Homo sapiens: one gene and its partner. The protein of the gene in region 1 purifies or fractionates together with the protein of each later gene. This does not show direct contact. Each region holds a gene or a part of one and is shown on either strand. Other genes may lie near its edges.

Region 1 (4,581 bases):
CTTTAATAAAAAGGGGGAAGAAAACATAGGTTTTAGGGCCTCATATTTAAATGGGTAAAGCAGGCATAGCTGGAAGGCAGAATACAGAACCCCCCTAATCAAGGATCTCATTTTTATATTGAATCCTAGGCCCCCCAAAAGAGGGAAATGTCATGGGACGAGATGTGTGGCATTTTTATCGAGTGCCCCACTGTAAAGATGCTCCCCCAAGGCTGGCAGGCAGCCCAGTGCCGATTAGCCCACTCTGTGCTTAGTCTTTTTTTTTTTTTTTTTTTTGAGGTGGAGTCTTGCTCTGTTGCCCAGGCTGGAGTGCAATGGCGTGATCTCGGCTCAATGCAATCTCTGTCTCGTGGGTTCAAGCGATTCTCCTGCCTCAGCCTCCCAAGTAGCTGAGATTACAGGCACCAGCCACTATGCTCAGCTAATTTTTTGTATTTTTAGTAGAGATGGGGTTTCAACATGTTGGCCAGGCTGGTCTCGAACTTCTGACCCCAAGTGATCCGCCCGCCTCGGCCTCCCAAAGTGCTGGGATTACAGGCGTGAGCCACCATGCCTGGCGTGCTTAGCCTATTTTTAATGGGAGTTTCATCCTCAATGGTGAGTGCTTTCATTGTCTTTAGGTGCCCCAGACCATGTTTTTAAAAATTTAAATGCACGAAGAAATAAGTAGCCCTGTATAGTAGTAATACTTTGTTGTGAATAACTGTCATAAGTCATCTCTAAAACTGTATTTTTTATCTAGTTATTATATATGACTAGCTATATGTCTAGTTTTTTAAATAATACAAAGTAATTTATTTTTGGCATCCTCAAAAACCAAAGAGATTAGGTAATGTAGTGTAGAAGAGAGCAGAGCTTTAGACCTGAGAAGAATCTGCCCATGACTCGTGAAACTCCACAACGAAAGTAGGAGACCCCAAAAAAGGGGTGAGTGTCATCTTTTCTGAATTTTTTTTTTTTTTTAGATGGAGTCTTGCTCTGCCACCAGGCTGGAGTGCAGTGGTGCAATCTCGGCTCAGCCTCCCGAGTAGCTAGGATTACAGGCACGCGCCACCATGACCAGCTAATTTTTGTATTTTTAGTAGAGACAGCGTTTCACCATGTTGGCCAGGATGGTCTCGATCTCTTGACCTCGTGATCCGCCCGCCTCGGCCTCCCAAAGTGCTGGGATTACAAGCGTGAGCCACTGCACTCGGCCGGTCAGATAATTTTTTTGGCCAGTTTTTACATAGAGTAATTTTAGGTTTTATGGCTGGCTTTGGGGCAAAGGGGTTCTGGTTTTTATAGCTGGTCTTGGGGGAGAATGGAACCGAGTGACAAGAGGACAAGAGAGGGTCAGAGAAAAACTTCTGCTTCTGAGGCGGCTATTGAGGCCTTCATTTTGGAGTATTGTCCTCTAAGCCCCAGCAGTGTCAAACTGTACACAAACCATACACAGCAGCCAGCTCGGGTGCTGTTAGGAAATGGTCTCACTGCTGGGTCTGTGGGGTATGTGTGTGTCTGGGTGTGTGGCTACTGTCTGCATCCTCCTCCCCCCTACAGCCTCCCCGCCTCCCCTCCAGCCACCCTGGGATTGGTGACTCTCAGCCCCTCCCCTCAGCTCCCCTAGACCCTCCCAGAGCCTTTATCAGGGAGCTGGGACTGAGTGACTGCAGCCTTCCTAGATCCCCTCCACTCGGTTTCTCTCTTTGCAGGAGCACCGGCAGCACCAGTGTGTGAGGGGAGCAGGCAGCGGTCCTAGCCAGTTCCTTGATCCTGCCAGACCACCCAGCCCCCGGCACAGAGCTGCTCCACAGGTAGGCAAGTGGGAGAATGCTGGATGGACCAGAGCTGGCACCAGGGGACAGGAGCCAGCGTCAGGAGGGAATAAAGCAGATGGCAGCCTCTGATAGGGGAGCAGGGGACTGGGAAGGTGAGCACAAAGCACCTGTAGGGCCGAGAGCTGGTTGGTGTTTGGAGCCTGTGGCTACAGACTCATTCTTTCATACCAGAAAGTTTTTGCCTAAGTCTTGGGATTATCTAGTACTGGAAAATAGCATCCAGGATCCCTCCTCCAGCTGACTGAGGAAACAGACCAGTCCATGTCCTACAAATCTATCATCTTTCTTGGGAGCTAGAGTCCTCCTGGCACCACTATAGCATTGCACATCTCCTGGGGAGATATCTGATGGGGTAGCAGGGAAACTAAGCCCAAGGGCTGTACCCCCTTCTCAGAAATACTTTCCACCCTCTCTCCAGACCAGGGCTTGGACAGTGGAGTTGGGGGCTGGGGAAGCAGGGTCAAGCCAAGCTGCTGGTAATGAATGTCTCTTGTGTCTTCACCCATGCTGTATCTTCCTCTTCTCTCCTTTACCTGAGTCCTGTCCCTTTGCTCTCCCAGGCACCATGAGGATCATGCTGCTATTCACAGCCATCCTGGCCTTCAGCCTAGCTCAGAGCTTTGGGGCTGTCTGTAAGGAGCCACAGGAGGAGGTGGTTCCTGGCGGGGGCCGCAGCAAGGTAAGTCTCCCCTGGCAGAGTACTGGGGACATCACGGGAACTTGGGACTCTGCCTGTCTGGACAGCTGTAGTGAGGAAACTGGGGTGGGGGGGTTGTCCGTCAGAGGGCATTTTGCCTCCCTTTGGATTTCTTTGTTTCTCTGGTCCTTTCATGTTCCCACTGTCTCCAGGTGTGTTTGTGTCTCTGTATCTCTGCATGTCTTTGACACCTTGTACATAAAAGGTGCCCTACAAATATGTTGTTTGGTGGGTTGATTGATGGGAGACTTGGTGATTGGATGGTACTGTGAGGGGTGAGCTAGGGTGGTCTAAGGCTCTCTATAGTCTACCTCAGGTCCCTTTGCAAGGGACAGATCTCTTCTATTTCCTGGATGGTATGAAACAGTCAGAATTTCTTTCCCAAATGGTTATTTGTGTGCTATTTTACCTATCAGTTATGTGTATTGTTTTATTTTCAAAATGCAAATAAATTCCCTTATCTTTTGCTCATCCACCCCCAGTAACCTCAGGTGCTTCTAAGATCCCAACCCCTTCCTTCTTCTCTTTTCTCCCTTGCCCGCCTCTATCCTCTGCTTAGTCAGGATAGGAAAACAACAACAGCAAAAAAACCAGATTGAGCCTCGATTTCCACAGTTCCTTTACGAAAAAGAATAGGAATTGTCAGGGTAGGGGTACAGGGGGAGGATAGGGAGGAAGTCTTTTCAAGGTTTTGAAATGACAGCAATTACATCGGTACAAATGCTTTTAAGATGATTGCGGGTGGGACTTATTACAAATTCAATGTGTGAAGTTTAACTGCCTCTTCAGCTCAAATCTGTTCAGCATCTCATTATAGGAGGTGGGCAGAGTATTCAACAATTTGGGAAAAGTGGCTGCCTGAACACCACATGCTGGGCCAAGGGAGTTATCACCAGGGCAGCCTTGCAGGTGGCAGCAGTTGTGCCATATCCAAAAGGCCAGAACCGTTAAAAAAAAAAACACCCAGGGGAGTGCCAAGTATGGGCTGGACACCGTTTGGAGCCACAAAGTTCCAGCCCAGGATAGTTAGAGTATCTGAGTTCTTCTGAGACAAACTTGTTTCAAGACCTTGGCCAATGAGATGTCCCCTCTGCCCCTCTTGGTCAATGAATGAGAGGGATTGCCATCCTACCCCTTCTCCTTGAGAGTCTGTGAGGATGAGGGAAATTGGGGCAGGAAGAGGGTAGTACATAGGTGTGCCTAGGCAACTGGGTTGGTATGTGTGGGGGTGTGTTCTGTGTAAATGCACTTCTGTGTGTGCACAACAGCCGAAGGATGCCTGGGTTCTGGAAAGAGAGGCGCTGCTGAGACTTGAGATTTGAGATGAAAATCTCCAGCCATGATCATTGTTATTGTCTCTCTGCAGCTGCAATTAACTGGCTGTGTGGTGTGTGCCCACCACCCTGCTGTACGCAAGTTGCTAAAAAAAAAAAAAAAATCACAGGGACAATCAAGAGCCCGTGCTGGGCAACAGCTCTAGAACTTGGGATTCAGTTGTGGAGAGAAGAAGACGTGCCTTCTGAGCATGTTGCCTTCCTGGAATTCTAGACCTAGGGCCAAAAGGGAGAGGGAGAGAAAACTAGAGGCGGAAAGCCATGGAGAATAGAGAAAGAGGTGGTGGAAAACAGGGAGAGAAACATCCATGGACATCGTGCAGAGTGGGGGAATCACAGGTGCAGATGTGTGCCTCCAATCTCACCATGCATGTGAATCACCTGGGGGGCTGCTTAAAATGCAGATTCTGTCTCAGGAGGTCTGGGGTAGGAACAAGAGTCTGCATTTCTAACAGGCTCTGTGTAGTGCTGGTGTTGCTGTTGGTCCACAGGTCACTCCTGGAGCACCTACTTCTCGTCCAGTGTGAACCAGAGGAAACTCTGAAAGAAATAGGGTGTCGGATTCAGGATGGGCTCAGGAAGAGGCTGTTTCTTGTGGGAAAAGGATGAGTGGATCCGGGTGGGAGCCTCCTGCCTCACCCCTCTTTGTTTCTTCCCTAGAGGGATCCAGATCTCTACCAGCTGCTCCAGAGACTCTTCAAAAGCCACTCATCTCTGGAGGGATTGCTCA
Region 2 (3,810 bases), on another chromosome or scaffold:
TATGTTAAGTTTCGTAACAAGATCACAAGATCACCAATATTTCTGTAGTTTCTCTCTTCACTCTTTAGAAAAAGCAGTGTTTATTTACAGAACATCCATCTACCTGCAAGACAGTGATGTAAGCACAACCAGCGTGGGATCACCCAAAACCCATTGGTTGAAGAGGGACCTTTAGGCGAATAGAAACTGCAGTGCCTAATTCTAACATCTGGCTCTGAGGAGGTTGCCATTGGCTCAGGTGCTGTGCCTTTCCAGAGGCTGCTTTGCTGCTGTGGGAAGGAAGTAGGAGAGGAAACCGTCATTGAGAGGCAAGGGCAAGCCTTGCTCACTCAGGCCTTACCTCACCAAGCCAGCCGTCTTGCCTTTTGCTCTGGCCTGTGCATAAAGAGCTCGGCCCACAGTTTTCTCCTTAATAGAGCTCCTAAATGTCTTGCCGTCCACAGTCCTAGAAAATGACAGAAGGTAACCAGTTGGTCAGAATAGTAATCTTTTTTTTTTTTCCCCTCGAGATGGAGTCTTGCTCTGTCACCCAGGCTGGAGTGCAATGGTGCAATCTCAGTTCAGTGCAACCTCCACCTCCTGGGTTCAAGCAATTCTCCTGCTTCAGCCCCCTGAGTAGCTGGGATTATAGGCGTCTGCCACCAGGCCAGGCTAATTTTTTGTATTTTTAGTAGAGATTGGGTTTCGCCATGTTGGCCAGGATGGTCTCGATCTCCTGACCTCATGATCCACCTGGCTTGGCCTCCCAAAGTGCTGGGATTACAGGTGTGAGCCACCGCGCCTGGCCCAGAATAGTAATCTTAGCAAAACAAACAAGAGCGAGCAAACAACCCAACAAGGCTAATTTAATGAATGAGGGCAATGATCATTTTGTGTCTATAAGAAATAAGAAGGGAGGCATTCAAATAGTTTATGGACAGGACTTCCTTTATTGATTGGATAGTGTGGCTTGAGAGGGGTTTGGTAGGCTCCCATCCTAAAACCTTTCCCTCATGTACTGTTGTTTGTTTATAGATTTTTCCTCATCTTTGAATTTCATCCTTTAGATTAAGGATGGTTCTCTTTGGGTATCCCCTTTGAATGACAAATGTGATTAGGGGAGGTGACTGATAAATTCCGAATTATCTCATTACTGGTTCATCAGGTCATTCTGTGAGCTAAGAATTTGGCATCGCTGTGGGGTATGCAATGGACCGAATGTTTATGTTCCCCGCAAATGTGCATGTTGAACCTTACTTCCTAGGACGATGACATTACGAGGTGGGGCCTTGGAGAGGGCTCTCTCCTCATGAATAGCATTTAGTGCTGTCATAAAAAACAGACTTCGAAGAGCTCTCTCATCTCTTTCCATCTTGACTGAACCAGGAAATGGGCCCTCACCAGACACGAAATCCTTGGGCATCTTGATCTCGGACTTCCCGGCCTTCAGAACTATGAATTTTAAATTTCTGTTGTTTATAATCTACCCATTTTATGGTACTTAGTCATAGCAGCCGGAGCTGATGAAGACAGAATATTATGCTCCTCTGCAAGGGTGGAAAAGAATAAAGAAAAAGGGGGAAGGTGCTGGTGGGTCCCCTGCCAAGGTGGTGTTTATCTGGAAACCATCTCCCTTGGGGACCTCTGTCTTCTATTTGCATCTCATCTCTATACACCTTACCTTTAGCTGGCTAGCACCTAATCCTTACCAAGTAATGGTTGGTCAGAGTGGTAGAATCCAGAATTTTGGAAGTACATGGGAACTTCCAGTACTCAAATGGGCAGTGTCTTTCCCAAGGAGCAATTTGGAAATGTGTGAAGTTTGGGTTGTTGAGATGACTTGGAAGTGCTGCTGGCATTTGTGGGAGGACACCACGAATGTTAGTCATCCTGCAATATGAGGGACAGCTCCACTGAAGAATTTTCCTGCCCCAAATGCCAACAGCACGTGTGTTGAGGCACACTTGTGGGTTTGCCCCTTTAGATGAGAGACATCAGACCCCAGGAGACAGGTGACTCTTGCCAAGGTCACACTGCTGGTCAAGGCCATCATGCTTCTATCGAATCAGAACTAAGTCTCAAAGGCCAAGGGGTCTTTAGGACAAAGGAAATCATCTCCCATAGAATATTCAAGATCTTGATAAAAAGGTAAAAGGGATATTTTGGCTAGTACATAGGTCTACACAGCTCATTTTAAGTTGTGATAATTAAGCAGGTATCTTCTCTGGTCTTATAGATTCAGCTCAGAGCAGAGGGAGATAAAAGTAAATGCATGTTTCACGATTCTGTCCTTTGTACTTCAAATCTTCTATGTAATGAGATAGTAAAGAAAGAACAGAATGAAGGACGGAATAGTATGCAGCCATAAAAAGGAATAAGATCATGTCCTTTGCAGGGACATGGTTGAAGCTGTAAGCCATCTTCCTCAGCAAACTAACACAGGAACAGAAAATCAAACACTGTATGTTCTCACTCATAAGTGGGAGTTGAACAATGAGAACACATGGACACAGGGAGGGGAATATTACACACCGTGTCCTGTCGGGCGGTAGGGGGCAAGGGGAGGGAGAGCATTAGGACAAACAGCTAACGCATGTGGGGCTTAAAACCTAGATGATGGGATGATAGGTGCAGCAAACCACCATGGCACATGTGTACCTATGTAACAAACCTATACATTCTGCACACGTATCCCAGAACTTAAAGTAAAAAAGAAAAAAAAAAAAGAAGGAAAACAGAAATAAGAGATCTTTTGAGTAAATTCTGATTGTGTGGTTTAAAAATAGGAATTTATTAAAATAGTTTTCAATGTCATTTCTAGACATGGGGTCATATAATACCAGTACAGAAAAGCCTTTCCTTCTCCCTTTGCTTTTTAGAAAAGGCAGACAAAAAAAGTGATACATTTTAAAGCCAATTCAAAGGATACCAATTAAAGTGACACAATGCCTTTTTCTGCCTATTTGGTTAGAGTTCACATGACTGCCACTTTCGGCAGCCAAAGTACATGGTGGTTGAACCCTTTACTATTTATCCACAATGATCACTGATTACCTTGGTGTATGAAAGACAAAAGTGGATGAGAAGTAATTCAACCTAATGTCTTCATAAAAAAAAAATAGCCAGACTTTATGCACAGTACTTTGCTGTGTTCTTGGCAACTTAAGAGGGACATTGACCACCTGGAACATACTCTGGGTTGGCCACCTTGATATTTGGACATAGAAATCATTCCAATCACTTAGAGGAACAGAGAATATTTAACTTTGATACATGAAGGCTCCAAGTGGATAACTGGTATTAACTGTTTGGAAAGTATTGGAGTAGTTTAACCTTCTTTTATTACGAAAAATTTCAAACACACAGAAAATAGAGGGAATAATATGAGATGTCCATGAAACCATCACTGAGCTACACCATTATGAATACTCAGCCAATCTTAATTTGTCTGTACTCTCATGCTTTCCACCTTAGTTGTTAAGAAGCCAAGTTCAAGGCCAGGCACGGTGGCTCACGCCTGTAATCCCAACACTTTGGGAGGCCGAGGCGGGCAGATCACGAGGTCAAGAGATCGAGACCATCCTGGCTAACACGGTGAAACTCCGTCTCTACTAAAAATACGAAAATTAGCCAGGCATGGTGGCGGGTGCCTGTAGTCCCAGCTACTCAGGAGGCTGAGGCAGGAGAATGGTGTGAACCCGGGAGGCGGAGCTTGCAGTGAGCCGAGATCACGCCACTGCACTCCAGCCTGGGCGACAGAGCGAGACTCCATCTCAAAAAAAAAAGAAGCCAAGCTCAGATGGCACATCATTTCATCTATGAACACTTCAA

What was found.
Region 2: the proteins of TAC3 (region 1) and ITIH2 purify together in Homo sapiens (affinity purification with mass spectrometry; one large-scale study listed by BioGRID and IntAct). This does not show direct contact.

Annotation. Positions count from the first base shown.
Region 1 is NC_000012.12:57,013,602-57,018,182, reverse strand, and holds the start of TAC3 (tachykinin-3 isoform 1 preproprotein), read left to right. Parts: upstream 1-1,653; 5' UTR 1,654-1,796; intron 1,797-2,380; 5' UTR 2,381-2,385; coding exon 2,386-2,499; intron 2,500-4,511; coding exon 4,512-4,581. UniProt on the Homo sapiens protein: Tachykinins are active peptides which excite neurons, evoke behavioral responses, are potent vasodilators and secretagogues, and contract (directly or indirectly) many smooth muscles. Is a critical central regulator of gonadal function.
Region 2 is NC_000010.11:7,709,816-7,713,625, reverse strand, and holds part of ITIH2 (inter-alpha-trypsin inhibitor heavy chain H2 precursor), read right to left. Parts: intron 446-3,810; coding exon 341-445; intron 1-340. UniProt on the Homo sapiens protein: May act as a carrier of hyaluronan in serum or as a binding protein between hyaluronan and other matrix protein, including those on cell surfaces in tissues to regulate the localization, synthesis and degradation of hyaluronan which are essential to cells undergoing biological processes.